Linked DNA regions of Homo sapiens: region 1 is linked to region 2. Evidence: fine-mapped expression QTL. Tissue or cell type: whole blood. Region 2 holds a variant in brackets; the other region holds the start of a gene. All regions are shown on one strand. Distances are between the middles of the regions. Region 1 holds the start of ELOVL7 (ELOVL fatty acid elongase 7). Region 2 overlaps ELOVL7 (ELOVL fatty acid elongase 7).

What was found. PIP is the estimated chance that this variant, and not a neighbour inherited with it, causes the effect.
Region 1: ELOVL7 starts here. The variant in region 2 is fine-mapped to the expression of ELOVL7 in whole blood (TOPMed, PIP above 0.99).

The regions. Positions count from the first base shown.
Region 1 is chr5:60,836,173-60,852,666 of GRCh38, reverse strand. ELOVL7 (ELOVL fatty acid elongase 7) reads left to right here and starts at 8,398. Exons shown (of 9, transcript NM_024930.3): 1 at 8,398-8,507. RefSeq lists silencers at 8,177-8,476, 8,497-8,656, 8,667-8,726.
Region 2 is chr5:60,811,934-60,826,322 of GRCh38, reverse strand. All of the region lies in intron 1 of ELOVL7 (ELOVL fatty acid elongase 7), which reads left to right. Among named protein-coding and RNA genes, the nearest start is that of ELOVL7, 25 kb to the left of the region's middle. RefSeq lists a silencer at 3,935-3,994. The variant A/G (reference allele first, on the strand shown) is at 5,302.

The DNA of each region.
Region 1 (16,494 bases), 25 kb before region 2:
GTTTCAGAGGCTTAATGCACTATAAATTTGTTTATAATTCCTAGAAGATCCTTCCCCTCCACAGGGTAATTTGAGAACACAGAATCCCTTCCATCTTGTGGCTCCACCACATTCAGCATATAAGGCTTCCTTCAGGGTGATGCAGGAGAAAGAACACACAGGATTTCACCTGTTAAATGTGAATGAGCCAGGCCTGGAAGGGACAAGCAACACTTTGCTCGAATTCCATTGGCCAGAATTCACTTTCATGGCCACTGCTAAACTGTAAGGAAGACTGGGAGATATAATCCAGCTGCGTGCCCAGGAGAAAGAGGAAACAAATCTAGTGAATAGCTAGCCATCATCTGCTATAGCTGTGAGTGGGCATGCTTTTCATTTCTACTCAGGAGGCAGAGGTTGCAACGAGCTAAGATCATACCACTGCACTGCAGCTTGGGTGTCAGAGCAAGACCCTATCTAAAAGCAACAAAAACAACAACAACAACAAGTTGGTGTGGTGGCTCATACCCTCATACCTGTAGTCTCAGCTACTCGCCTGAGGATCACCTGAGCCCAGGAGTTTGAGGTTGCAGTGAGCTATGACTACTGCACTGCCCTCTAGACTGGACGACAGAGCAAGACCCTGTCTCTTAAAAATAGGATAGAATATAGAAAAGAATCTGGCCATTTCTATGCCCATCACTGTTTTCCCTTACAATAACTATTTTCTTAAGCTTTCTGAACAAGTCTAATTTTTCCTCATGCTAATCTAGAAAAAAACAGCTGAAACAAATGAGCTGTAACTAAATGACTCACAAACTTTGCTTTGGGGGATATGTCACAGCTCCTTCACTCTCATTTCTTAGAATGCTTTATCTGCACAATTGCTTAAAAATAGATAGGGAACTCATTTTAAATGCATTAAATGGATATATAAAACCAAGAACAACAGAGATAAAAGATACCATTTTTTAAATCACATCCATTTGCAGGGTCAGGTCTTGATGATCTATGCCAAAGAAAAAGAAACATGAGTAATATAAAGCAATTCACAATTTCTTTTCTTCACTTAGGAAGTCAGTCATGGCCAGGCACAGTGGCTCACGCCTGTAATCCCAGCACTTTGGGAGGCCAAGGCAGGCGGATCACGGGTCAGGAGTTTGAGACCAGCCTGACCAACATGGTGAAACCTTGTCTCTACTAAAAATACAGAAAAATTAGCCGGGCGTGGTGGCACGCGCCTGTAATCCCAGCTACTCAGGAGCCTGACGCAGGAGAATCGCTTGAACTCGGGAGGTGGAGGTTGCAGTGAGCTGAGACCATGCCATTGCACTCCAGCCTGGGCAACAAGAGCGAAACTCTGTCTCAAAATAAAAAAAGGAAATCAGTCACTAACACATATATGCTCATCTCTACTCAGTCTGATTTTAAAAGCTGGCCTCCACTGTCATTTATGCCAAAAGTAAACATTGATTGACTGACTACAGTAAACACTGATTAACTGACTACAGATTATACCATGATAAATCATTTTGAAAACATACCTTAAACTGTAAAATAAAAACATTCTAATAACAGTTTAAAATGTACATTTCAATCAAAGACTATGTTCCTTGGACAAGTAAAAATAATTTGACTAATTTGATATTTTTGTATGCACCCAAGGTTCACAAATATTGTCTAATAAATATAATCCCCTAGGTCAGGCTCGGTGGCTCATGCCTGTAATCCCAGCACTTTGGGAGGCCAAGGCAGGTAGGTCATCTGATGTCAGGAGTTCAAGACCAGCATGGCCAACATGGCAAAACCCCGTCTCTACTAAAAATACAAAAATTAGCCGAGCATGGTGGTGGGCGCCTGTAATCCCAGCTACTCGGAGGCTGAGGTGGGATAATTGCCTGAACCTGGGAGGTGGAGGTTGAGGTTGCAATGAGCCAAGATTGCGCCACTCCACTACAGCCTGGGTGATGGGGCAAGACTCCCATCTTAAAAAAAATAAATTATATATATGTGTGTGTGTGTGTGTAATCCCCAGTGCCTCGTTTTGCTTACCACAATTTTATTAGGATAGCATTGCTATGGTCTGAATGTTTCTGTCCTCCTAAATTCATATGTTCAAACCTAATCACCAATGTGATGATATTAGGAGGGAGGGCCTTTTGGAGATGATTAGATCATGAGGATAGGAGCCCTCACACATGGTATTAGTGCCTTTATAAAAGAGGCCCCAGGTTCTCCTTTCATAGAGCCATCAGGGCTGGGTTCAGTGGCTTATTCCTATAATCCCAGCACTTTGGGAGGCCAGGGTGGGAGGATGGTTTAAGCCCAGGAGTTCGAGGCCAGCCTGGGCAAAATGGCAAAACCCCATCCCTACAAAAAAATACAGAAATTAGCTGGGTGTGGTGGTGCATGCTGTGGTCCCAGCTACTTGGGAAGCTCAGGTGGGAGGGTTGCTTAAGCCCAGGAAGTTGAGGCTGCAGTGAACTGTGATTGTGCCACTGCACTCCAGCCTAGGTGACAGAGTAAGACCCTGACAAGAAAGGAAGAAAGAAAGGGAGGAAGGGAGAGAAGGAGGGAGGGAGGGAGGGAGAAAAAGAAAAGAAAGAGCCATTGATAAATCAAGAAGGACTGCACCAAACACTGAATGTGCTAGCTGCTTGATCTTGGGCTTCCTAGCCTCCAGAACTGTGAGAAATCCATTTCTGCTGTTTATAAGCTACTCAGTTGTGGTAGCAGCTTGATCAGACTAAGACAAGAAGTCTTTTGGAAATATTCAAAACCTATAAAAAATTTAAGAGCTGGGCATGACGGCACATGCCTCTAGTCCCAGATACTCAGGAGGCTGAGGCAGGAGGATTGTTTGAGCCCAGGAATTTGAGGTTGTGGTGCACTATGATTGCATCTGTGAATAGCTGCTACACTCCAGCCTGGGCAACATAGTGAGACTCCATCCCTAAAAAAAATTTTTTTTAACAGAGTATCATAGAATATGTAAAATCTAATATGTAAATCCTAATGTTTTTATAAAATCTTCTAAAATGTGATAGCCTATTAATAAAAGTATTCTTTGTTTTTTTCTTACCCCAAATTGATAAGCCTTTCAATCACTACACTAAAAATGTAATGATTATCCAAGAAAGTAATCATCCAGGATTGATAATAAAGTATACAGGCTATCTCTCCAAAAGCAGGCATATCCAGGGAATAAAAATAAAATATACAATGTTAAAAGACACAGATAAAACTCATTGAAATTCTTTTCATTGGTTATTTCATTGCCATCCAAAGTATGGCTGGCCTTGTACTGGAGGGGCCTCAAAATTTGTGTTTTTTAGCATTTATCCTCAGTGATTATTAAAATCAGGCTAATTTGGGAAACACCACCCTAGCATAAATGAAACTCCTCCAGGAAAACAGAGCCTCCATTTGATAAATTGTTATGTAAACCTATGAGGTACATTAGACATCAGTTAACTATTATTACATAAAACTTAGAGTAACACATAGCACAAAAAAGTTATGAGTAACATGCAGTATAAATAACATATAGTGTCTAGTACAAAGTCCCAAAACTCATGAGAGTTAAATGGAGTTTTAAAGTGTAAATATTTTTTATGTTTTCTTGTTTATTGTTTCCATTAAATTTCTAAAATAGTTTTTCCTGATGGTATATTATTTACCCATGCAATAAAATGTAAATTATGATAGTAGTTTTATCTCTTTGAAGAGCAGTTTATTATTATGAAATGTAGGACATGAGAATTTTAACTAGATACTATTATGTTAGATTTGGCCTTCACAAAACTGTGATATCAAGATAAACTGATTGAATAAACATTCAGATAATATAGTTGGCACAGAAAGCATTTTTATAATATTTGAAGTCAGATCAAAGTTAATTTCATGATCATAATAAGTGGCAATTCTTCACAGTCAAAAATCATGAGTATTTTCAAATAACTGAGGTTTACAGGAAAATAATTATATTGATTGTTATAATAACTTGAGGGATGTTCTCATTCTGTATCTCACATTGTCTTGGAGATATTAATTTTACATATATCTTAGATATGTGAACAGGATTACCAGAAAGAAAATGATTTTTCTGAAACTCATAGTTTGCATTTCAATGCCAAAAAAAATTAAAAGGATGAAGCCTTTAAGTCTGGCAGGCTACAGATACCTTGTGGTAAAGAAACAAGATGTGGGAATGGTTGATAGTCATTTACTCAATGAACCTATCATATTGCAATTATGTTCTTCCTCTGATGATATCAGAGTTATCATTATCTCTCAGAGTTATCATTATGAAATCTATATAAAAAAATAGGAAAACATTTTAAAGCATTTAAATATGAAACTCACAAAAGTACATTCCACAACTTTTCTAAATTTCTTTTTGCCATCTACATATTTATTTAGCACCCACTGTTTGTAGGCTAATATCCTAGGCACCACAGATATAAAGAGAGAGTAGATAAAATATCTTCCCTTTAGGGCTTATAGCACAGCTGGGGAGGCAATGATAAGTATCAGAAAAGATAGGTCACATGTAAGGTGTCTCAGCAACTCTTAACAGAATCAGTTAAGAGCGTGTGTTAAGATGCACATTCCTTGGCCCACTCTCCAGACTCACTAAATCAGCATCTCAAAATAATTTTCAGGAACTTGCATAACATCCCAAGCATTGTGACTCTCAGTAAAGTATAAGAATCACTGGTAAAAGTTAAATCCATATGATACTGACATAGAGTAAGAAGTTGACAGGGTTCAATTTTCTCTTAAAGAATAAAATATAGTGAAAAAAATTGTAATTATTCACAAGGGTTATCGTTGCCTCAAGAGAATACCAGAGGCACTCTACAAATTACTAATAATTTAGTAAAGACAAAGGATTTACAACCATTAAACAAAAATTAGCGTTCTTATATTTACATTTAGAAAATGTAATTTAAAAATACATATACCAGGCCAGGCACGGTGGTTTACACCTGTAATCCCAGCACTTTGGGAGGCTGAAGAAGGAGGTTCTTGAGACCAGGAGTTTGAGACCAGTCTGGGAAACATAGCAAGATCCCGTCTCTACAAAAAATTAAAAAATTAGCCCCCCATGGTGGTGCATGCCTGTAGTCCTAGCTTCTCTGATGCTGAGGCTGGAAGATCGCTTGAGCCCAGAAGTTCAAGGCTGCAGTGAGCTATGATTGTGTCACTGCACTGTAGCCTGGGCAACAGAGTGAGACCCTGTCTTAAAAAAAAAAAACGTTGATAGTAGTGGCAATAATTATAAGGTTCCTAAGAATAAGCATAATAAAATATGTGAAAGACCAACTATGGAGATATATGTTCATGGATGGGTCACCTCAATATCATAAAGATGACAGGTTATCCCTAAATAACTTTAAGACAATTAAAATAAAAATCCTGCCATAGCTTTTCATTGAAAACAAGAAAGAAAGCTTCTTTTCACATTTACATAAAATAGTAAAAGTAAAAGAAAATATAAGGCAGGACACATAGACAGTGGAATGGAATCAAGAGCCTAAACACAGAACCCCGTGTGTGAGAATTTAGCAAATGGGGAAAGGAGGGATAATCTCTTCTCTATTCTCACTCTTGGTGCTCTTAGCCATTCTCATGCCTTTCAGTGTCATCTGGAAACTGACTACATCCAGATTTATATTGCTAGCCCAGACCTCTCTTTCTTGACCTCCAGACTAGTGTAATCAACTACCTACTTGACATTCATTCCCATTTAGATAGGTAACAGGTATCTCAAATTAAAGCAATGCCAAACAACTCCTGACCTGCCCTTCTCCCTACATTTTTCTTTCACAGTTTTTTTTTCTTTCAGTAAATGGCATTTTTTTTCTTCGAGTTACCCAAGGCAAACACCCTGGAGTCATCCTTGACCTCTTTTTTCTCTCTCTCATAGCCCATATCAAATTCTCAGGAAATCCTGTTAATATTACCTTCAGAATGTATTTTTTTAAATCTTCTTTCACTACTACCAACTTGGTCAAAGCCACCTTTATCTCTCATCTGGATTTCCCAAGAGCCTCCTGATCATCGTCTTACTTCTGTCCTTCTTCTCTGCCTCCATACCCCATGCCCTATTCTCAAAAAAGTTGCCAAAATACTCTTGAAAATGTCAAAGTATGACAGTTTTTTACTCAAAATGCTTCCTTAACTCTTTGACCTCATTTCTTACTGTCCTCACTCACTGAAATTCATCTGACATCTCCCCTTTGCTGGTCTATGAATGGAATATCCCACACCACACCCCCAGAGCTTTTAGCCTTGCCATTCCCTTTGAGTGGAATGCTGTTACTGGATAGGCACACAGGTGTGTCACCTTACCTGTTCAAAATCTGGGCTGAAATGCCTGCTTCCACTGGGGCCTTCCCTAACCACTTTAACATTTAACACAACTCCCCACCTCCAAAAGTCTCCATCCCCTTCCCTTCTTTATTTTTCTTCATAGCACTTATCAAACCCTGAACATCACATTTTTTTTCTTTTTTTTCCTCTTTTTTTTTTTTGAGACAGAGTCTAGCTCTGTCGCCCAGGCTGGAGGAGTGCAGTGGCGAGATCTCTGCTCACTGCAACCTCTGTCTCCCAGGTTCAAGCGACTCTCCTGCCTCAGCCTCCCAAGTCGTTGGGACTACAGGCACGCACCACCACACTCGGCTAATTTTTGTATTTTTAGTAGAGACGGCGTTTCACTGTATTGCACAGTCTGGTCTCGAACTCCTGACCTCACGATCTGCCCGCCTCGGCCTCCCAAAGTGCTGGGATTACAAGCGTGAGCCACTGCGCCTGGCTGAACACTACATTTTTTTTACTTCTTTATTCATGTATTGTCTGTCATCTCCAACTAGAATGAACGTATAGTCCCTGAGAACGGGGAATTTGTTATCTATTGAAACTTCAGGGCCTGGAACATAGCAGCACTCCAGTATTTGTTAAATAAATGAATCCATTTGAGCTTCTGCATATTTGAAATTTCATAAGTATATATAAATGGTAAATTGTGATAGACTCAAAGGCTAGTATCATTAGGCAATTGTCTCCCGTTCCCAAAAGACTTCCTAAGTCTACTAAATGATCTGTTTTTAATATGAAAGCAAAGTTATCTAAAAGAAAGGAGAAATCTTTAGTTTTTTTGACTTCGAGATTCTTTGCAATTTAAGCTTTTTTTTTTTTTTTTTTTTTTTTTTTTGCTTTTCTTTCAATGGACACTTTCGAAGTTTTACATAAAAACATTAAAACCTCTTGTTTAATGTAGTGGGATTAAGCTGCCGAAGGCAATCCCTACATGTGAGGAAAATATGCTTCCGACACCCCAATTTTTTTTTTCTCCCTACCCATCCTCTCTGGTGGTCCTGACGCTCCCAGCCCCTTTTTGTGTTTCTTGATTCCATGCTGAGAACTCGCAATACAAACTCAAAGCCCACATTTGTGAGGTGGTTGGGTCAGGACTGCAACTAAAAATGATTATTGTTTTTTAGGTTTCTGGACAGTTCAACACCAGCCTTTGGTTTTGCCTCAGAAGCAGGGAACTTCTCTAGGCCCCTATTTTGCCTTTCAGCTATTGATGATCCAAATCATACCAGCGATTAGGAGGATCATTACCAGACACAAGGCCAGGTACGTTTAAAAAATAAATAAACCAAGCGCAGGTGCACACTCCGAACGCTCATCCCCACCCCCACTTTCCAATCCAACAGTAGGTAACGAGAAATGAATTTTCTAGACTTTTTTTCCTGCAGCAGTTGCTGTTACCAGAAACAAAGTTAGATGATATACAATCTAATCTTCATTGCTCTAAAAGTCCTCTCCCCATGCCCCCCAGGCTGCCTCAATTCTCTAGTTTCTTATTCCTTATAAGCAGGGGATGGAGCTGAACCAAGTCGGCCTTCCCCTCCCAGGGCCTTCTCCTCTTGGTCTGGCTTCCATTTCAGATGCGAATTAACCCTCCCAATACCCTTTCAGAAGCAAGGAGTCCCCTTTTTCTCCGCCTCCAGCCTCAGCTAGGTTTTCCTCATTTCGGATTTTTCTACTGCTCATTCCCAAATGAGTCACGCATGACGACAATTTCCACTCTGCTATGTCAGCCTGGAGATGTCCCCCAAGTGATGGCATCTGCTCTCGGAAAGAAAGGTCATCGGTGCCACGACCAGCCCCGCTAACCCAGAGCGGCCGGTGGGCCCCAGTCCCGAGAGTCAGGGCGCGCGGCGGAGGCGAGGCCGGGGCGGCCTCCGCCCTCCCGGCCGCTCCCCCTCGCGCCGCCCCGGCTCCTCCCTCCGGCCCTCGGCGGGCACCTGGCGGCGGCGGGCAGGGGGCGGCGCTGCGCGCGTCACGCGGCTGGGTGGGATAGCGGGCAGGTGACACCCGGCGGCCTCCTCCCCTTTCCAACCCAGTCGGCGGCCGGGACAGCGGGGGCCGCTGTGAGGAGCTCCGCGCTCGCGCTGCCAGTCGCCGCCCTCTCTCCCGCGCGCGCCCGGCGCTTCGGCTCCGCTCCCTGTGCGGTGAGTGCGGGGTTCCAGGCCGGCGGGCAGGGGCCAAACTTTCCCGGCGCGCGGAGGAGAAGAGACTGGGGAGGGAGGCAGAGCCGAGGGGAACGGCGTCGGGAGTGGCCGGATGGAGGAACTTGGGCGCGGCGCGCGAGAAGTGGGACCCGGGTGCGGGGGCCCCGGGAGCGGGGCCAGGCCCTCCCTGGGCTCGGGAGGCGCTTGGGAAGTTCTGTCCCCGCTGCCTGCGCGTGGGGAGGACCGAGGCCCTTTTCGCCGGAGCGCGGGGCCGCGGCGCTCACCTGCGCCTTCTCGGGAGCCCCCACCCGGCAGCATCCCGAAGGGAAGGTCGGGCCCGGTGGGCGCGCTGCGGAGCGGAGCCTGGACTGGGGTCCCGCGCGGCGCTGGCCCTGCGGAGCGGAGCGGGAGGGGCAGAGGTGCTCGCCGGCGGGACTGGGAGGGAGAAGGACCTGCTCGACCTTGGACGCGGAGGTCATTTTCCCAGCTCCGGGGTCTGGCCTCGCTAGCCACCCCCCCAAATTCCGGAGCCCCTTTCTTTCTGTTTCCTTCCTTCCCCTTTGGGCGCTTTTTTTGCTCCCGCGGCCAGATGAACTTGGGGCGCTGTCCCTTCGGCTCCCCGAGCCGCATCCTGTCTTGGTGGCTGCTGCTGGCCGGGAGGAGGCTGATGAATACAGAGCCGTGGAACAGGTCGTGCCGGAGATGGAAACAGGAAAGCCTGTTGTTTTGTCGTCCCAGGTATCGTTGGTTCTTTGGGAAATGGGCTTTCCCAGGTTCGTTGGGAAATGGGCTTTCCCAGGTTCGTTGGGAAATGGGCTTTCCCCCTTCAAGTCAGAGCTGTTTCAAACTTCACCCGGTGCGGACAGAGCGCTCTTTGGAGCTCCCTGGGGAACTCGGGACGGGAAGGAGCGGGTCTTTACACCTGTCCTGCTCCCAGTGTAGTTAGTCCCGCGTCGACTGAAGAACAGTTTTAGCGACCCGAGTTCCTCGCCAGTGGTCTTTTCCCTCTTGCTACGATCTCCCCTCGGAAAGCATGTTCACTTAACCCTGTGCTCTCGGATTACCCTTTATTTCATTCCTCACTTTTATTGCTTACGTGCTCCGAAAGGGTCATCGATACCTGGTGGCTGCCTCTGCGTTCTTACCACGCACCCGCTTATTCATTCCCTTTCTTTGTAGTTTCTCTTCGTACTACTGATCAGAAATTGGTCTCCCCAAGGTCACCGAGAACTAAATAAAATCCACCCCTCACCCCGTGGCAGACATTTATCAGTGCTTAGGTGCCAGGCACTGATGTCAGTTCTTGTGTAAAAGCTTTTAATCTTCACAACGATCCTGGGAAGTAGATATTAATATTATTCTCATTTTAATGATGAGGTAACTGAGGCACGGAGAGGTTAAGTAACTTGCCCAAGGCCACACCCATCTCAGCGGTAGGAGATTCCAGCTCTGGGGTTCTGTCTCCAGCACTGGAGCTGTTAACCACTGTCCTACACTGCCTCACCTAGAGTTCGTTTGCTCGTCCTTATTTTCTGAAGTCCCGTGCTGTTTCAGGCATCGTTGACCAGGCTGTCAATCTCAGGTCCCTCTTTTCCTTCTTATGTGTCTTTATACTAGTTTAGGATCCCCACACCCTCCCCCTGCCCCCGCTTTTTTTTTTTTTAAGAAAAATAGATTTTTGGGACTTTGTTACTTCATCTATCACCTGTATTTATCTGGCTTAAGATTCTGTGCTTTCCATGTCTTCTTCAGTTTTAGTGTAACGTCTGTCAGTGCACATTATAATATTCCGCTTGGACTTGCCCGGCTTTTCCCCAAAACAGCTCCAGATGCTCATTTCCATTAAGGGTCCTGCCATTATCCTGGTCTCCAAGGTGCCGTGCCATTCCTCTCCCATTCGTTAAATATCTTCTATCCAATTTTTACATGGTGTCTTCTAGCCTTTATCAGTCTCGCCCACTCCCATCCTCTCTTCACCACTCTCCCTCTTCCCCACTTTGAACACATATGCCCTTCTCTGCTATTTGTTATCATCTTTTATGTTTGCTTTGCACAAAAAGATTGCAAACAGCTTAGGACATTAAATCTTCAGGCCTTACAGCTAGTAGTTGCTTGATAAATGTAGAAGATGATACAGTATAAATTTTGGTAGCACACATCAGGCAGGTTTGATGATGGAAATTTTTAAGCCAGGTTTTACAGGAAGTTACGGAGTTTGCATTGGTAAACGTGTAGGAGCTGGTAGACATTGTACATGAAGGGGAGAAAAGCCTGTGTTCACTCCATTGTCACAAACAGGTACCCAGCTGTTCTGATGAAACATTACATTTAGAGGTATAATGAAGCAAATCAGCAGAAAACCATTTATCCTTATCTTGACAAAACAAAATATGAAAACACATAAAGTTAAAAAAAAACCTTTTTATTGAAAAACGTAGCACATACATAAAAGTGCATAAAACATAAATGGACAGATTAACACAGTAGATGTATTCAGCAATAGAACGACAGTGTTATTCTGGCCATAGATAGGCTACAGTCAGGCCAAATAGGAATCTTTTCACAAAAACCTGTATAAGGTGAAGTGGGCCTGGACTGCTCCCAAGAGGCATTGCCAAGAAAGAATTGGCTGTGCATGGAGAGGCTTGAGGAGAGAGAAAATAAGACTGGAAATTGGTACCAAAAGGATAAGATCAGGGAGCCAAGAAGAGAGTTCAGACCCACTGAACATAATTCTACCACAATGAATATTTAACCAGGTTGCCTTTGTCTCTCTCTTTTTTTCTATGCATATTTTCCTTCATCATACTCCATATAGTATTTTAGTATTCTCAGGCTGGGCACAGTGGTTCGCCCCTGTAATCCCAGCACTTTGGGAGGCTGAGGCAGGTGGATCACCTTAGGTCAGGAGTTTGAGACCAGCCTGGCCAAAATGGTGAAACCCCATCTCTACTAAAAATACAAAAGTTAGCTGGGTGTGTTGGCACATGCCTGTAGTCCCAGCTACTTGGGAGGCTGAGGCAGGAGAATCGCTTGAACCCAGGAGGCAGAGGTTGCAGTGAGCTGAGATCATGCCACTGCACTCCAGCCTGGGCAACAAAGGAGACTCTGTCTTAAAAAAAAAAAAAAAAAAAAAGGAAAGTAATTTTTTTTAGTATTCTGTGTTTTCCATATAATACCTAGTAAGCATTTTTCATCTTATGTAATTTTCAGAACTCATATTGTTTGTATTCTAGTAATTATAATGTGATTTACTTAACTAAAACTCTATTGTTGGACAAGTATATTAGCAACAAATTATAAACAACCTAAGTTATAGTAATACTTATCTTTGCAGTTGTATCATTTTACAAGTTGGGACTCATTTCCTAATGATACTGTTCCAGAAGTAGAATTACTTCGTCAGCAAGTATGGTCATTTTTATGGTTCTCAATACATGCTGTCAGATTTCTAAAAGCGATTTTAAAAAGAGGATCAATGCATTTTACCTAACTTCTCTCTCTAGGAAGTAACAGCAATTCAATTAAACATGAACAGTATTATTAAATGTTGTATTAGTTTCCTCAGGCTGCCATAACAAAGTACCACCAACTGGGTAGCTTGAAAAAACAGCAATTTATTGTCTCACAGTTCTGGAGGCTACAAGTCTAAAATTAGGGTGTCAGCAGTGTTGAACCCTTCTGAAAGCTCTGAGGGAGAATTTGTTCCATGCTTCTCCTAGGTTCTGGTGACAGCAGCAATCTCTGATATTCCTTGTGCTGGCATCACTCTAATCTCTGCTTCTGTCTTCATATGCATTTTCCCTTTGTGTCTGTGTCTTCACATAACCATCTTATAAACACACCAGTCATATTGGATTTAGGGCCCATCCCACTCCAGTATGACCTCATTTTAACATCTGCAAAAATTCAATGTCCAAATAATAGCACACTGTGAGGTATTGGGGGTTAGGATTTCAACATATCCTCTTTGGGGCACACAATTCAACCTGCCATAGGGTTTTCAAATGTGCATAAAAGAAAGCGCCTATCTGCAAATAATTTCTAGGCAAATTGAGAAAGTAGGATTTTTTCTAATTTTTGAGATTTGTTTATTCTCCATGATGTGCCACTTGTGCTTATCAGTTTTAAGATACAGAAGGATGCTCTTTTCTCCCCCCGAGACAGGGTCTCTCTCTGTCACCCAGGCGGGAGTGCAGTGGCACAGTCATGGCTTTCCGCAGCCTCAATCCCCAGACTCAAGCAATCCTCCCACTTCAGAGTCCCCAGTAGCTGAGACTACAGACACATGTCACCATGCCTGGCTAATTTTTTGTATCTTTTATAGAGACAGAGTCTCACTATGTTGCCCACATTGGTCTTGAACTCCTGGGCTGAAATGATTCTCCTGCCTCAGCCTTCCAAAGTGCTAGGATTACAGATGTGAGCCATTGCACATGGCCTGGAAGGTTGCTATTTACCAAACACGGAATTCCGGAGCCATGGTAAATGGTAGCATGTTAAACTGAGAATAGCCAGAATTTCAAGAAGATACATCACGTAGCATGGAAAGAAGCATGCCATAAACACACTTTTAGAAATATGTCTTACATGTGTTTCAGTGACTCATCCAGTTTTGACCATGCACAGTTGCAAAAAGTTGAAAACTAATACCAGTTGGGCATTTTATATCACTGGTCTTTGAAAAAATTTGAAATTTCCATTATTCCTAATTGATTTCTAAAAGTACATATTATTACATTGGCAAGTGAAATCACTCTTTTTGTAAATGATAGAAGTTGGCATACCATCATAATTTCTTTTCCTTTCTTTTTTTTTCTGAGACGGAATCTTGCTCTGTCGACCAATAAAGTTGTGCGATCTTGCCTCACTGCAACCTCTGCCTCCCAGGTTCGGTGATTCTCCTGCCTCAGCTTCCTGAGTAGCTGGGACTACAGGCTCATGCCACCATGCCCAGCTAATTATTTATTTATTTATTTTTGGTAGAGATGGGGTTTCACCATGTTGGCCAGTCTGTTCTCGAACACCTGAACTCAGGTGATGATCTGCTCACCTCAGCCTCCCAAAGTGCTGGGCTTACAGGCGTGAGCCATCATGCCTGGCCCATCATAAATATATATATATATATATTTTTTTTTGACACTGTTTTGTTCTTGTCGCCTGGGCTGGAGTGCAATGGCGCTATCTCTGCTCACTGCAACCTCTGCCTCCTGGGTTCAAGTGATTCTCCAGCCTCAGCCTCCTGAGTAGCTGGGATTACAGACACTCACCACCAAGATGGCTAATTTTTATATTTTTAGTAGAGACGGGGTTTCACTATGTTGGCCAGGCTGCTCTTGAATTCCTGACCTCAGGTGATCTGCCCTCCTCAGCCTCCCAAAGTGCTGGGATTACAGGCAGGAGCCACCACACCTGACTCATAAATATTTTTAAACAGACTATTATTCAAATGAGATAAGTTTCCACATAGCTTACAAATTCCCCATGTTAAAGACAAATCTTAATCAATCTGGATAAGCAGCTACTTAAGCCATGAACACCAGCAGCCCTGCTTCTTGGACTTTCTAATGTAGGGTAAAAGAGCCAAACCTAGATAAAACTGGGGAGTTTCAGAAGCTGCACACTCAACAAACATTTGAGTGTTAGCTTTGTGTCAGGCAAAGGGGCTGGCAGATTGCTAAAGCCAGTCCAGGTCCATGTGAGTTATAGACAAGTAAATGTAAGTTACAAAATTACAGTTCAGTATGATAAACTGTGCTGTGATATACACAGACCAGGTCCTGGGGAGGCAAGGCAGAGGCGGGCAGACAGGAAGTCCTTCTGAGAGGAAAGAAGGAAGAGTGCGAGTTAGGGCAGCTGAGAAATGGGACGAGGAGTGGGAAATAGAATCTAGGGAGAGAGTGCAGGTGCGATCAGGGAGATGCAGATACTTTAAAGTAACTAGGAAGAGGGTGTGAGTTGAAGTTGCCTAGGCATGCAGAGGCCAGGCTTACTGAGAGCATTTTTTGACCCCATAAAGGTTTTGGATTTTATCATAATGTCAGTGGGGAATCCTGGGAAGCCTGTAAGAAGGAAAAGGATGTGTTAAGATTTGAATCTCTCTGGCGCTTGCCATTTCACCTTTATGAAACCTCTCCTCCTCCCATCAGGCCTTTATCTCATTTCCCTATCTGATCTGGAAAGGACAGCTACCTTCCTTGTTTACATTAGATATCTTTTTTTTGAGACAGAGTTTTGCTCTTGTTGCCCAGGCTGGAGTGCAATGGCATGCTCTTGGCTTACTGCAACCTCCCGTGTTCAAGCAATTCTCCTGCCTCAGCCTCCCGAGTAGCTGGGATTACAGGCATGCACCATCATGCCTGGCTAATTTTGTATTTTTAGTAGAGACGGGGTTTGTCCATGTTAGGTCAGGCTGGTCTCAAACTCCCGACCTCAGGTGATGCACCTGCCTTGGCCTCCTAAAGTGCTGGGATTACAGGCATGAGCCACTGCGCCCAGCCTACATTAGATATCTTGATTATGCTTAGCTTGCATGTGAATTTTGAAACAGAAAATCAACTTCATGGGCATCATCTGTACCTCTGTCCTTACAGGATACTCAAGGCTGCATTTACATTTAAAACATCTTATTGAAAATTATGGGGTGAAAGGTTTGTCATCTTTTAGGCATAAGTAATAGTTGCAATGAATCTCTCTTTTTTTTGAGGTGGAGTCTCACTGTGTCACCCAGTTTGAAGTGCAATGTTGTGATCTTGGCTCACTGCAACCTCTGCCTCCCAGGTTCAAGCAATTCTCCTGGTTCAGCCTCCTGACAAGCGCCACCCCCACCCCCCACTCCCCCCCCACCCCCCCGCCCTACCACGCCTGCCCGGCTAATTTTTGTATTTTTAGTAGAGACGGGGTTTCACCGTGGTGGCCAGGCTGGTCTCGACTCCCGACCTCAGGTGATCTGCCCGCCTCAGCCTCCCAAAGTGCTGGGATTACAGGCGTGAGACACTGCACCCAGCCTGCAGTGAGTCTCTTTACTTGTATTTTCTAATGAATCCTTTGAAGCCAGCAAAGTCTGGCTCATCATATGCACAGGTACAGAAAGGTGAAAAAAGCAGAAAGGGTGCTCAGGCTACACTGGTAGAAGTATGCAGCCAGGATTTAAACCTAGGTGTAATTACAAGGTTTAGGCTCTCCCCACTCTGAATACTAACTCTCTGGGTTGATATTTTTGAGAATATAGGAGGCCCTAGGACTCTGATATCTTACAATAGTTTTGTGAGGGCGTAAGGGCAACCATAAAAATAAACCCAATTTAGATTTTTTAGTGTCAATGGTAGAAACGTGAGATCTAGACAAAGAGAGTTTCACTAGCAGCCCTTAATCTAAATACAGCCCCATCCCCCAACTCTTCTCCTTCTTTCTGTCCCAAATTTTTGGGTTTTGTCCTAATAGCACGCTTGTGATTTGTTTGTGTGTTTATTTTAATTAAATGCTCTAACAAGGGCAGAACAAAAGTAAAGGGCACTTATTACTTAAGGGTGACTTATTTTAAGTCTGTTCAGGGGCTTCTCTGCCCCTCAGAGTCTTACCTGTCTTTTTGTACCTTCTTCAGGCAGACAGTGCTGTGTTGCATCCTGTAGGACAGAAAGATTTATGTCTCAGAAATAAACCAGCCAACGAACAATGTTGACCCACATTTTAATCCCTTTGCTGCTTATCATTCAGTTAGCTAGAAAGCACAGCTGATAGCTTCATCCTTCATCCTCTTCTTCGTGTGTGACTAACAGGTGTGACTTTAACTTGAAGAAAGAAAGAAGATAGAAATGGCATTCCTAGGAATCCAGAGTCCAATGACGAATTATTCAGTAGCTTAGGGTGAGTTCCTGAGCCAATGTGGAATGGAATTTTTTAAATCAAGCTGTGAGAACCACTATTCATTCTTCTAAAGGAAAAAAATGGTAGTGGATGTGATATTTAACATAAAATATAGTCAGTG
Region 2 (14,389 bases):
CTAGAGATAAGCATTTCAGTTATCTAAAATACTTTTATGAAACACTGCATTAGAAGATGAGGCTGGATAAATGAACTGTACTCATAAATACAAAACAGGATGAATTAATTTGATCTTACTGTTGGTTACTTTTCTTAACCACCCCTCTCCTTGAGTACCATTTATTTTTCCTCCCTTTCTGGCTTACCTGTACATTTTATAGATACGTACTATTTGGTGTATATGTACCGTAATACCTCCCCTGTATTCAGATTTGTAATAGGAAAGACCATTATGCTTTTTGCTCTCTATAGGATTCATCAGTCCATGTGCCCTGCCTGTCCACCGCTGGGCATTCCTTCCCCAGATGGGGCTCCATGCCCTATTCCTGTCCCTACTTGGACTGAACCTATGACTGCCAATTCTTGCTTGTCTCAAGGCAGGGTATTTAAGGCTATGGATTCCCACCCTTCCTCTCATTCTTGTAATTTTTGGTTACTGACCAAAAGAGAAACCCTTTACTGGGTATTATAGCCTTTCTATTGGCTCCTGTTACTATTAACCATACTTTCAGCTCTGTCCTTTATTCTTTGAGACTGGTGTTCCATTGTGTTCCAGTTCTCTTGTATCCCCAGTCTCATCATTTTCCAAATATAACTGAATCACAGCTCTTTCCCTCAACCTCAGGCCCATACACTGCTTATGAGAAGGTTCATCCATCCATTCATTCAACAAATATTTCAGTGTCTGTTACACGTCAAGCACTGTTTCAGGTGCCAGAGAGGTAAGAGTGCACAAAACAGAAGAACATCCCTGCCCCTAAGCAGCTTATAATATAGCGCATTCTTGGGGGCAGAGAGGGCCAGACGGTAAACAAGTAAATTTAGAATATTGGTGAAATACATATAAATATATATAACACTGAAAAGTACGATGCAGAAAAATAAAGCAAGGTAAGGGAAGTGCGTGTTGTTGGAGTGGTGACATTTTAGCAGGGATCTGAGGAAAGTGAAGGAGTAAGCTGTGGCAGATATCTGGAGGAAAAGAACTATAGGTTGTGGGGACAGTGATTTTCAATGCCTTGAGGCAGGGCATTCTTGGTGTGTTCAGGGAAGGACAAGGGGATCAATGCAGTTGAAGCTAAGTATGAGAAGTGAGGCTGGGCATGGTGGCGCACACCTGTAATCCCAGCACTTTGGGTGGATCACTTGAGGTCAGGAGTTTGAGACCAGCCTGGGTGTGTGCCTTTAGTCCCAGGTACTTGGGAAGCTGAGGCAGGAGAATCACTTGAACCCAGGATGTGGAGGTTGCAATGAGCCGAGATCGCACCACTGCACTCCAGCCTGGGTGACAGAGTGAGACTCTGTCTCAAAAAAAAAAAAAGAAGTGAGAAGAAGGAAAGGTCAGAGGTCAGAGAGGTAGTCAGGGCCCAGATCATGTAAGGCCGTGGAGCCCATTATAAGAACTTTGACTTTTATTGTGAGTGAGGTGGGAAAATATTGGTGCATTTTAAACAGAGAAGGGACATGACTTGAGTTTTTGTTTTGTTGTTTTTAACTTGAGGAAGACATTAAAGAGGGACAAAGATGAAGTCAGGGAGACCAGCTTAGAGGCTACTGCAGCAATCCGGATAAGACAGGACAGTGGCTTGGGCCACCGTTAAAGTAAAGTAGTTGGATTCTAGAATATATTTAGAAGATAGGATTTGTTCATGAATTTTATGTAGAAAGAAATGGAGGCTTTCTTCCATATTTAAAGATCTGGGTGGACTGGCCAGGATTCCCCTATCTATCCATTGCCACATTTGAATCTAACTGTTACTTTTTCACTTCCATAGGAAAATGAAACAAAACTCTCCTTTTTTGAACATCTCACTGTTGGGCTTTGTTGCCTCTGCCTTTCTTAGTCTTCTTTGTCTCTTGTTCTTCGCTTCAATCCCACATGCCTTAGAGACTTTGACGTTTCTCCATCGTTACTCCTGCTGTTGCTCTGGGAGACTTCCACGTCCCTTCAAATGCCGACTTGTGAGCGGCCTTAAAGTTCCTTGTGTGACTCAACTGTGATAACCTTTACAGCACTGTAAAGGTCTCTGGCTGTTCAGCTCTCTTATACCTCCTTCTCTTCACTCTCTCAGAGACTATAATTTTGCCTTGGTGTCTGAATTTTTTATTTATCCTACTTCCATATTTACCTGGCAAAGCCCTAATTCCAAATTAATCCTACAGTAATCCTCTGCACGGATACCCAGGTAGTGTCTGAATTTTTTATTTATCCTACTTCCATATTTACCTGGTAAAGCCCTAATTCCAAATTAATCCTACAGTAATCCTCTGCAGGGATACCCAGGTAGCTGAACAGTGTGGTGGAAAACTGGGTAAAATGGTAAATGGATCAGTTCATGGTTTCCAGTCTTGTCTCAATCCTGACCAGCATTACTTAAGTCTTTCACTCAGTGACTCTCAATCTTGGCTGCATATTAGAATCATCTGGGAACTTAAAAAAATCCTGGAGCCCAGGCTACAGAGACCAGTTAAATCTGAAATTTGGAGGCAGGACCCAAGCATCAGTAGTTACTCATGTTCTTTAGGTGATTCTAATGTGCAACTAAGATTGAGAACCACTACTTTAAACTTGTTCTTGAAGGATTTTCAGTTTCCATTTCCCTGAAAAGCTATTCTATTCTTTCACTAATCTCTAAAAAACCCTCTACCTAACTCCGTTTTATAAACCCTTGGCAATTGATCCCACTTCCTACTTGCTAGAAAAATTGAAGCATCTATTGGTGAATCCTCTTTAATTTTTAGTCCCCATTTAGTCAACTATACATTTAATTAGGGCTTAGATAAGCCAGGCACTGTGGTAGGCATGGGACATAGAGTGGTAAATGGGACAGTTATAGTCCGTGCCTTCCTGGTGCTTATGGTCTATCCCTGCATCCAGGCAGGTCAATTAGGCAATTACTGGACATGGTACATGCTATGGGCGCATGTAGGAAGGGCCCTAATCCAGACTTAGGCTCTGGAGAAGGCTTCCTCCCCTTTACTAACTCATCTATTTCACGCCCTTCTTTCCCGTTTTCCTTCTCGGAGGAGGTATCACCCTTGCTCCAGTGGAGGGAGAATGCTGCCTTGCAGGGCTTCTGACCATCCCCCTCATTTTCTCCTCTAGACCTTCATGGGTTGTTCCTTCTTGTTTCTCTCTATTACTTCATCCCCTCACTGTAAAAATACTCCAACAGTTATCACCTTAAGACTAATAAAGCTTGATTTTGCCTCTCCTTCTTCTCTTCTAGACTTCACCACCAGGCTTCGTGAACAAGACCTGTTCAATGCCTGCTATTAATCACCTGCCTTTGCATTTTGGCTTCAGCCTTATCATTGCTTAATTTCTTCTTCCTTCCAGTCACAGAGGCTTCCAGGTTGGCTGAATTTGCTGAAGACCATTCCACTCTATGCACTGAACCTCTCTGATGCATTTGACCCTATTCATCCCTGCCTCCCTCTTCAGAATTTTTCCCACTTTTGTTTTCATGATCCTGCACGTACTGAGTTCTCCTCATGTCTTTTTGACTCTTTCTTTTTTTGTCTCCTTTGTGAGATTCCATCTTTTGGCCTTCCCCTTAAGTGATGGTATTCTCCAGGCGTTTGTCTTTAGACCACTATTGTTCTCATGCATCTATTACTGTGGTTTTCATCACCAACTAGATGTGAAGTTCCAAAAGCTGTATCCTTAGCCTTGACCTTCCTCCCAAGTGCCTGCTAAACATCTCCACCTGAATGTCCCCTGGGCTTGTCACATTGGGATTTACTTTACCAAACTATCTCTGCCCTTGTTCAGGCCTATAATGATTTCTCATTGGGATGATGGAATTAAACCCCACTCGGTCTTCTTGCTCTTAGGCTCACCCATCACATTCATCCTTTGCATAGCTGATTTGCCTATAGCTAAAGCTTGCACTAAGGGGATTCTTCTGGTACAGGCTTGGGGTTTTCAGTGGGTAGCACTCTGGTGACCTGTGTGGTTGAGCTCTTTTACATATCGAGCTTATGAATAATATTTCACCTTTTCAGCGCTTCCTATTGCCTATGCAGTGTCTTTCACACTCTTCCTCATTTGCACTCCTTTCTCAGTGCATTTGACTATCCTACAACCCCAAAGTACCCAATTCCTACTGTTCACCAAGAAATAGCTCAGTCTCACATCTTTCACAAAGCCTTCTTATCATTCACACCTTCATTTATTTATTCACTGATATTTATTAGACATTTGCATTGTTGCATTGTCCCAGGCAGCAAACAACATTCCCAAAAGGAGGAAGGTAAGAACACACCTGAAGGCATTAGAGAAGTGCTTCTCAAACTATCTGTGGTAATAGACCAACTGGGTTTTTAATTTGTTTTTTTCTTTTTTTCCCTATCGTGGATCAGTAAATGGTCCTATTGCACATAGTGAATATGCAGGTTGCACCACATGTGACTCACCTCACAAATTCAGCAACACTTGAACTGGTCTATGCCTTGTTCAACAAGCATCACATACTTGGATGTCACAGCAATGTCAAATTGCTATAAACATTTCTAAATGCTTACACTTGATTTCTGGAGTTAGCTGGTACCAATCTAGTAAGAAACCATTTGTGCGTCAGCACCAGTCACAGGCCACTGTCCTAGAGTGTTTGCTATAGATGCCATGGTAGAAGAGGGGACAGCTTATGTCAGGGGCTCAGAAGAGACTGGACAGTTTGCCTGGGTGGTTTAGCTGTAAGGGGAACAGAAAGCATGTTAGAGGAAGGCAGAATTATGAAAAGTGAGCTAGGCTTCCCAGCCAGCCGAACAAGGATTTTTAGTCATGAAGAGAAACTGGAGCATAGATAGAGGGGGAAGGAGGAGCACTTGGGCTTGCTGAGTTGGAGGATAGAGGGGACATAGTGGAAAAGGTTGCTGTTAGGCAAGAGATGAAGCTAGAGAGTCACGTGGGGTTGAGATCATTCGTTCAGCGAATACTGTTTGGAAGTCAACCATGTGCCAGACCCTGCCTAGGAATTGGGGTTAGAAGTCCAGCAGGGACAGTTTTGCTCTGCTAGAGATTAGAAGGGTGCTAAGCGTCACCACAGAGTTAGACTTTTTAGTAACTGTAGGCAGACTTTGAAGGATTTTGAAGTAGAGCATGGTGTGACTGCTTTAATCCTTGGGAAGATGACTCTGGTGGCCTTGTGTACAGTGGATGGCTGTTCATTTAGGAAAGTTAGTTGAAAGGTGATTTCAGTAATCTTGGCCACACAAAGACGGAAGTGAACTAGGCAGTAATTATAATTATTACTCA[A/G]ATTTACCGAGAACTTTGTATAGGGCTTAAAGCTACAGCATACTAAAAACAGATAATTCACTAGGCAGACAAGAGAACATCAACACAAGACAGACTTATCAGTAGACAAACTTATTAGTTCACTTCCTTCTGTGTGTGGCCAAGAGATGATAAAGCTCAGGAAGTAGCAGTCAGGGGTTGAGGGGAGGAAGTGGAGTTGAAGGAAAGGGGAAGGGACTTTTAGGAGAAATATCATAAAGATGGCATACACCACAGGTCTTAAGGGGTCAGTGGAGTTTAAGGATGGCTCACAGTTTCTGATTTGTGATCAGGTTCGTGGTCCAACTCATTGGGAGAACGAATAATAGAAGGGGAGGGTGTTGGAGAAGTGAGAAGTCAAGAGTCTAAAGATGTCGTACCAGTTAGGTGCCTTTCTGTGTTCCTGTAGTGCTTTGTGCTAACTTCTTGCATAGAATTGTCCATTGGGCTGAAGTACTTATGAGCTCCTTGAGAATGTGTACCCATTTTTCTATCCCAGACACTGGTCACAGGGCCTGGCATGTGGAACAGGCTTGACAAATGGTTCTTAAACTAAACCGAAAGATAGTGTATTAGTTTTCTATTGCTGCCATAACAAACCACCACAGACTTTTTAAGTTCATTGAAATAACACAAATGTATTATCTCACAGTTCTGTAGGTCAGAATTCCAGGTTGGCACAGCTGGTTTTTCTGCTCTGTGTTTCACAAGGCCCAATTAAGGTGTTGGTCAATTGGGCTCTTATTAGGAGGCTCCATTTGGAGCTCCAATGGGAGCTTGGAATCCATTTCTAAGCTCATTCAGGTTGTTGGCAGGATTTACTTTTTTTGTGGCTGTAGGACAGAGGTTCCTGTTTCCAGGCTGTCTGTCAGAGGCCACCCTTACCTTCTAGGAACCTCTCCCCAGTCCTTGAATGTGGGCCAGTCCATCCCAGAGCCAGCAAAGTTGCACTGAATATTCATGCTTCAAATCCTCCTTCTTCCAGCCAGAGACAGTTCTCTACTTTTAAGGATGCATTTGATTACATCGGGCCCAACATGATATTCCAGGGTAAATCCCTATTTTAAGGTCTATACATTTAATTACATCTGTGGAAACCCTTTTGGACATATTAGGCGCGGAGGGGAGAGCATCATTTTGTCTACTACAATAGTAATTATCCACCAAGTCAGGTAGGCATTATGATCGTGGTTTTTTTTGTTTTGTTTTGTTTTTCTCTCGAGACAGAGTCTCACTGTCACCCAAGCTGGAGTGCGGTGGCTCGATCTTGGCTCACTGCAACCTCCACCTCCCAGGTTCAAATGATTCTCGTGCCTCAGCCTCCTGAGTAGGCAGGATTACAGGCGCCCGCCTGCCACCACGCCGAGCTAATTTTTGTATATTTAGTAGGGACGGGGTTTCACCATGTTGGCCAGGCTGGTCTCAAACTCCTGACCTCAGGTGATCCACCCACCTCGGCCTCCCTAAGTGCTGGGATTACAGGCATGAGCCACCGTTCCCAGCCTATGATCGTGGTTCTTAAACACTTATGCATTCTAGCACCTCTCATTTGTACAGGGAAGCAAAAGGAGACTGAATTTGCCCAGTGTCAGATGGGAATGGGAACCGAGATAGATCACGACCCTTCAACTTCACTCTTTCTTCTAACCGTCAGTACATTGTCCATCTCATCCATCTGTCTATCCACCTATCCCATCTATTCAACTAGTAGTAATTCATTCATTAATTCATAAACATTTGAGTAGCTGCTTTTTTAAAAGAGTCTATGCTAGGTTGGGAAATGAGGAAGAAAGTGAGATACAAAGATAACACCTGATTTCTGTCAGTTCATTTTTAGTATATTGAGGTCTATATCAAGCTCTGCTCTCCTCTCCTCTCCTCTCCTCTCCTCTCCTCTCCTCTCCCCTCCCCTCCCCTCCCCTCCCCTCCCCTCCCCTCCCCTCCCCTCCCCTCCCCTCCCCTCCCCTCCCCTCCCCTCCCCTCTCCTCTTCTCTTCTTTTTCTTTCTCCCTGTTGCCCAGGCTGGAGTGCAGTGGCACAATATCTCATCCCACTGCAACCTCCACCTCTCAGGTTCAAAATGATTCTCCTGTCTCAGCCTCCCGAGTAGCTGGGATTACAGGTGCCCACCACCATGCCCAGCTAATTTTTTTGTATTTTTAGTAGAGACGGGGTTTCACCATGTTGGCCAGGCTGGTCTCGAATTCCTGACCTCGTGATCCACCCGCCTCAGCCTCCCAAAGTGCTGGGATTACAGGCGTGAGCCACCATGCCCAGCCTCAAGTTTTCTTAAATCCATGCTGTCTACTGATAGGTTTGTCTTGTGTTGATGTTTTCTTCTCTGTGTAGCGAATTATCTGTTTTTAGTAAGCTATAGCTTCAAGCCCCGTACCAAGTTCTCAGTAAATGTGAGTAATTATTATAATTACTGTTTAGTTTACTTCCTTCTATGTATGGCCATAAAATTTAGGAACCATTACTACATGTATCTTATCATTGCTTTCATTTTTAACTTTATTCAAGTAACCAGTGTTACAGTTGCTTATTACTCTTTCCAGAGATTTGCGCACATACAAGGAAGTATTTGTCTTGTGTGATTTTTAGTGATTATTCCATAGCAGCATAGGTAAAGCTATTTCATTCCTTTATTCTTTTAATAACTTTTTTTTTTTTTTTTTTTTTTTTCTGAGATGGAACCTCACTCTGTTGCCCAGTCTGGAGCACAGTGGTGCAATCTTGACTCACTTCCACTTCCGCCTCCCGGGTTCAAGCAATTCTACTGCCTCAGCCTCCAGAATAGCTGGGATTATAGGCGCCCGCCACCACACCCAGCTAATTTCTATATTTTTAGTACAGACAGGGTTTCATCATGTTGGCCAGGCTGGTCTCGAACTCCTGACCTCAAGTGATCCACCTGCCTCGGCCTCCCAAAGTGCCAGGATTCCAGATGTGAGCCATCACACCTGGCCCTTTTTATAACTTTATTCTTTTTTTAAGGCATAGCATTCCATTGTTCAAATATACCAGTTTTTTTAAACAAGTCTCATATTGGTGGACATTTGGATTGTTTCCACTTCTTTTGCTATTAAAAGATTGCTACAATAAAAAAATCTCCTGTGTGTATCTTTCATGCAAGTATATATATATATATATATACACACACACACACACACATATATATACACACACACATATATATGGTGTGTATATATATGGTATATATATGGTGTGTGTGTTTATATATGGTATATATATGGTGTGTGTGTATATATATGGTATATACATATGTGTATATATATGGTGTGTGTATATATATGGTGTGTGTGTATATATGTGTATATATGTATATATATACTTAATATATATACTAATATACATATATACAAATATAAACTAATATATATACTAATATATATACATATATATATACACATATATATACACACACACACCATTTGTTTTATAGTTGATATTGCCAAATCACTCCCATAGAGGTTGTACCAGTTCACATTCCCATCAGCAATGTCTGAGAGTGCCTGTTTCTCCAGACTTTGACTAACAAAGTGTGTTATCAGACTTTATGGTCTTGGCCAATCTGATAAGTAAAATGATATTTCACTCTAATTTAAATTTGTACTTGTCACATTGTTGAGTAACATTGGACATCTTTTTGAATACATTTTAGAGCTATTTGTATTTCCTTTTCTGTAAACCCTCTGTTTTTTGTATCTTTTTTTCATTTCTCTGCTGAGAAATTTTTTTTTTTTAATTTGTTGAAAGCCTTTATATATTAGAGAAAGTAACCTTTTGGGATATGAGATACTTATGTTTTCCTTTCAGTTTCATTTCTCTTTTGATTTTGTGTGCTTAAGCTTTTCACTGTATAAATATTTAAAGTGGTCATATTTAATCTTTACATCTGTGACTTCTATGTTTTGTGTCATTGTTGGAAAATCCTGCCTCATTCCAGTATTATAAAATAATTAGCTCAGGTTTACCAATTATTTAACTTTTAATTTTGAAATAATTATAGATTCGCAAAAAGTTGCAACATTACTACAGAGAGATCTGTGTAATTTTCATTCAGTTTTCCCCAAACACCGGGTATTTTTATAATTTCATTTTTACATTTGAATTTTGTATTTATCTGAAATTTGTTTTAATATGAGATATGGATTTCAATTAATTTTTTTTCCAGTTGGCTACCCATTGATCCTCACATAATTTGTTGAATAATCTGTATTTTCCCCAATAATTTAAAATGCATGTGTATCTACTATGAACTAATTCCTGCATCTACTGGTTAATTTCTTAAATATTTAAAGTATCAACTGGAAGAGAAGCTGCCATGGCATTATCATTGTACATTTTTCCAAGGGCCACATGTTGAAATAACCAGTGCTGACTTTGTGTCAAAAATCCATTTATAGTGTAATTTGGCCTATTTGGCTAGAACTGTGTGGTATTGTGGGTTGTGGTGGGGTATAGGTAAATAACATTTATTCTTTGCCCTCCAGGAGTTCACCTTGTCTTATTGATCCCAATCTATTCAGGTAAAGTCTTTAGACTATGTAGTGCTTATGGGTAACCAATTAATCCTCCCTATACTCTTTTTTTTTTTTTTGAGATGGAGTCTCGCTCTGTTGCTCAGGCTGGAGTGCAGTGATGCAATCTCGGCTCACTGCAACTTCCGCCTCCTCTGAATCCTGGTAGCAATTCTCCTATCTCAACCTGAGTAGCTGGGACTACAGGGGCCGCCACCATGCCCGGCTAATTTTTGTACTTTTAGTAGAGATGGGGATTCATCATGTTGGCCAGGCTGGTCTCAAACTCTTGACCTCAAGTGATCCAGCTGCCTTGGCCTCCCAAAGTGCTGGGATTATAGGCATGAGCCACCACACCTGGCCCTTCCCAAAACTCTTCTAAATGACATATATTATCTCCATTTTGTAGGTAATAGAGACTCAAGGATTAAAGTTGTTCCGATATCCAGTCACAGCAAGTTGGCAGAGCTCAAGCCCAGGTTCTGGTCTTTTGATTACTAGCGTTATTCCACACCATTCCAGGACATGCCTCAGATCTGCCTGAGACGTCTTTTCACTCCATTGACCTCAGATAAAAACTGCCATAACTTGTGAGCTACATCATAACTCTACTATTCCATCTTGGCTTTAGCAAACCTAAAGACTTTCACCATTTTTATTTTATTTTTAAAATAAATATTAAACACCATGGTGAAACCCCATCTCTACTAAAAAGAAATAGAAAAATTAGCCAGGCATGGTGGCGCAAACCTGCAATCCCAGCTATTTTTGAAGCTGAGGCAGGAGAATTGCTTGAGTCCGGGAGGCAGAGGTTGCAGTGAGCTGAGATCGTGCCATTGCATTCCAGCCTGGGTAACAGAACGAGACTCTGTCTCAAAAAAAAATAAATAAATTTTATTTATTTATAAAATAAATAAATTTTATTGCGTGTATTTGAGATTTACAATGTGATGTTCATGTTTACTTCCTACTTTTTAATGAAAGGGTTAAGCAAAGGTAGATAACTTCTGCAAGGTTTTTCTGATTTCACTCTGAGTGATGCTAAAGGAAAATGAAATACTCATCTGCTTATTTCATTACCTGAGTGTAAGTAGTAGATTTAGTGTATATTTAGGTTATTTAGATTTAGGTAATCCTAAAATTCTTTCCAAGCTGTGATTCTTGCTAGTATTTTCCATAGTTTTATGTTCCCATATAGGAGGAAGTGAACAAAAACATTTAAAGAATGATAAGTATTTTCATGTGGGTTATTTAGAGGGAAAACATGCTACAAATTCCTTAATCCAATTAAAATCACACTTGTTACAGAAAGTAATGTGGACCGATTATTGTATAATAGTAGTATTGATTTCAGTTCATTATGCATTAGCTTGGTAGCATATGTTTAAAGGCTACCACTTAAAATTCTGTATATGCTTTGAATTTAAGACTATCAGCTCATATGCTTTGTTAGGGTCCTCTTATAGTTTCCTGGCAATTAGCTGCAATGTAGTTCATGTGATGTTTTTCATGGGATAGGGATTTTAGGAGCAGTAAATGGGGATGGGGTGGAGGTGAGTCTCCAGCCCTGTATTTTCTGCTTACCATTCACAATTAAGCCCAGCATAGGGCTTAGTGTGGTGTTAATAAATGTTGGTTGATTGATGAAATTCATTTCACCATCTTGTTCTTCTTACTGCCCTTCACACTGGGAAGCTGTGTGCTATCATGACGAGCATAGACTGGAACCCTGAACTTTGAACACTTCCTCTACAGCTTAGTAACTGTGTGATCTGGGGCAAGTTCCTTAACTTCTCTGAGCTTCAGTTTCCTTATCTGTAGAATAAAGATAATGGTATTTCTCTGATAAGAGCTGCTAGGAAGATTGAATGTGATAATGTCAGTGGAATACCTAGCACAGTACATGACCCAGAACCTTCAGTTAGTGGGCGTTATTGTTATTCTCTTGGATAACTTGGGTAGCAACTCACTATACTCCCTTGCCTCAAGAAGTAGAGACAATAGTTGGTTTCAGGGGATGTGCCTAGTTGTACTGCTTGTGGTATGCTGGGTCAGATCCCTTTGTTTCAAGAAAACTCTGCAATCTCCTCACAGAATCTGTTAACACCTCTTTGACTTTTGAGCAATACTCCAAGATGACTACTGAGGCTGGATGAGAAGGCTGATTGTCATCTGTGGTTCTGCTTCTTCCTTATGCATTTTTGACCCATTTCACAGATTTCATAATAACTCATTATGAAAATTTTATTCTTTTCAGAACCACCGATTTTTAAAACTTTAATCAAGACAGCTTTCTTTTTGCAAAAGATTTCAATAATGAGGATTCCAGGTTGGCACAGGCTGATTTGGGCAACTGAGAAAAGTCTTTCCGACCTTTGTCAGAGAAGTAGCTTAGCTGAGTTCGTTCTTGTTGCCACCTTGCTTTTGAATCTCTTGGTTAATGTATGAAAGCAGAGGAACTGCTTTCATCTGAGGCACACAGTGGCAAAGTTCCCATGGCAGGAAATGTTTGTTCTTACAAATCTCATACATGGTGGTCACAAGGGAGACCTTCGTATTTTGTTTTGCTTGTCTGGGCTTTATCATAATTTGATGATTGTTTCAGTGTGTTTGCCTGACAGCTAACTATCTAAGAGAAAAGACTGTGATGCACTTGCCCTTAGGGACCTTCTTAGTCAGCCCCAATCTACCTGTCGAGTTTATCTCCTGCTTCCCCTCTTTGCAAATCCTTTTTGTACTACAACCAGGCTAGTGGTCTTTTAACAAGTGTTCTCTGAAGTAACAATCCCTGTTTCTGTTAACTGAAAAAAAAAAATTGATATAAACAAAAACAAAGAGTTGATGACTTCTGAGATTGGGAGGGAGGAATGGGGGCAGGTGAGAAATAACTTACTAAAGGGAAATAGAGATTTTTACATTGGAGGGCAGTAGGGAGTGTTGAATGAGAAGAGTGGAGTCAGATAGTGGAGCTGAGAACTTGGGACTTGATGTAATTTAGAATAGGGAAAGGGGAAAAGGTGATGAAAGTGGTATTTTAGGACTATATTTTTCTCTTAATAAGATTAACCCTAAGCGTAGATTTAAGGGATATATGAGTAGAGGCAAGAGTTATCCAGGCCCAGTTATAGTAATACACGTGTCAACCGAAGTTCTGGTTGTTAGCAGTGAGAATTGTGGGGAACATTTTCATTTGAGAAAAGTCAGGTTGTAACAGCTCACAGGTTGGAGGTAAAAGAGCACAGTCAAAGATGATTCTAATGGCTTGGAGTAAAAGAAAAGTCAAGCCATTAACGCCTGTGAAGGTGACGGATCAATAAACCTGTTGGTTGAAGATAGAAGCTGGGCAAGATGAGTTCCTTTTGGGATTAGTTAGGCTTCCTGTGATGGTGGAATATCCAAATTATAATGTTTATTGGCAGTTGGAGAAAATGGACTCTGGCATGGATGAAAGGTTAGGGTTCAGAGTGTAGACTTAGGAGTCATTACCATTGTTTTAGGAACAAGTAGATAGAAAGCAAAGAGAGCACCAAGGATTGAAGGGAGAAATCCTTCAGTGCAGGGGTATGAAGAAAATAACCAGCTAAACAAAACAAGCAAGAGCTGAATGATGGAAAGGCTTGAGGCCAGTGAGATGAATGCTATACTGTGGAAGCCAAGGTCAGGGCTGTGAGAAGGAAGGAGAGGTCAACAATGAGGGACTGCAGGCAGATCAGAGTAGACAAAAACTTAGGATAAGCCTTTAGGTTTAGCAAGAGGGAGGTTCTCAACCTTTGTGTACAATTCCAGTGAGAGAGGAAACCTTTAACCAAGCAAGATGATTATCTGAGAAGAGTCACACCTTCCATGAGGAATACCTTTAGAGATGCTGTGATCCAGAATCCCTGCCATGCTAAATCACAGTCTGTCATATCTACTCAAGAACAATTCCTTTCCCTTATTCCATTATCATATGCCTATTCTTTTTTTTTCCAATTAAATTTTGCAGCTTGTCCTCTCCAGCCTAGAGAGGGCTTGTCACTATTGTTATTGAACAACATAGGTCACAACCAGTTAAATTTTTTTCTATTCCAACACATTTTCTGATGAAAATTAAATATATACCAAGCAATAAATTTGGTTCTCTATTGTCAAACTTAACAGCAAGAAACTCTTTGTTACATTGTACTATTTCATTTTCTCTCAAGATAACATTTTATTCTTTATATTTCCTTTTCTTTATTTAATTAATTTATTTATTTTGAGAGATAGGATCTTGTTATGTTGCCTAGGCTGCAGTGCAGTGGCACAATCATTGCTCACTGTAACCTCAAACTACTGGGCTTCAGTGGTCCTCTTGCCTCAGTCTCCTGAGTAGCTGGGACAACAGGTGTGTGCCATCATGCCCAGTTAATTTTTTAAAAACAATTTTGTAGAGATGAGGTCTCCCTGTGTTGTCCAGGCTGGTTTCAAACTCCTGGCCTCAAGCAATCCTCCTGCCTTGGCCTCCTAAATTGCTGAGGTTAAAGGTCTGAGTGACTGTACCTGGAA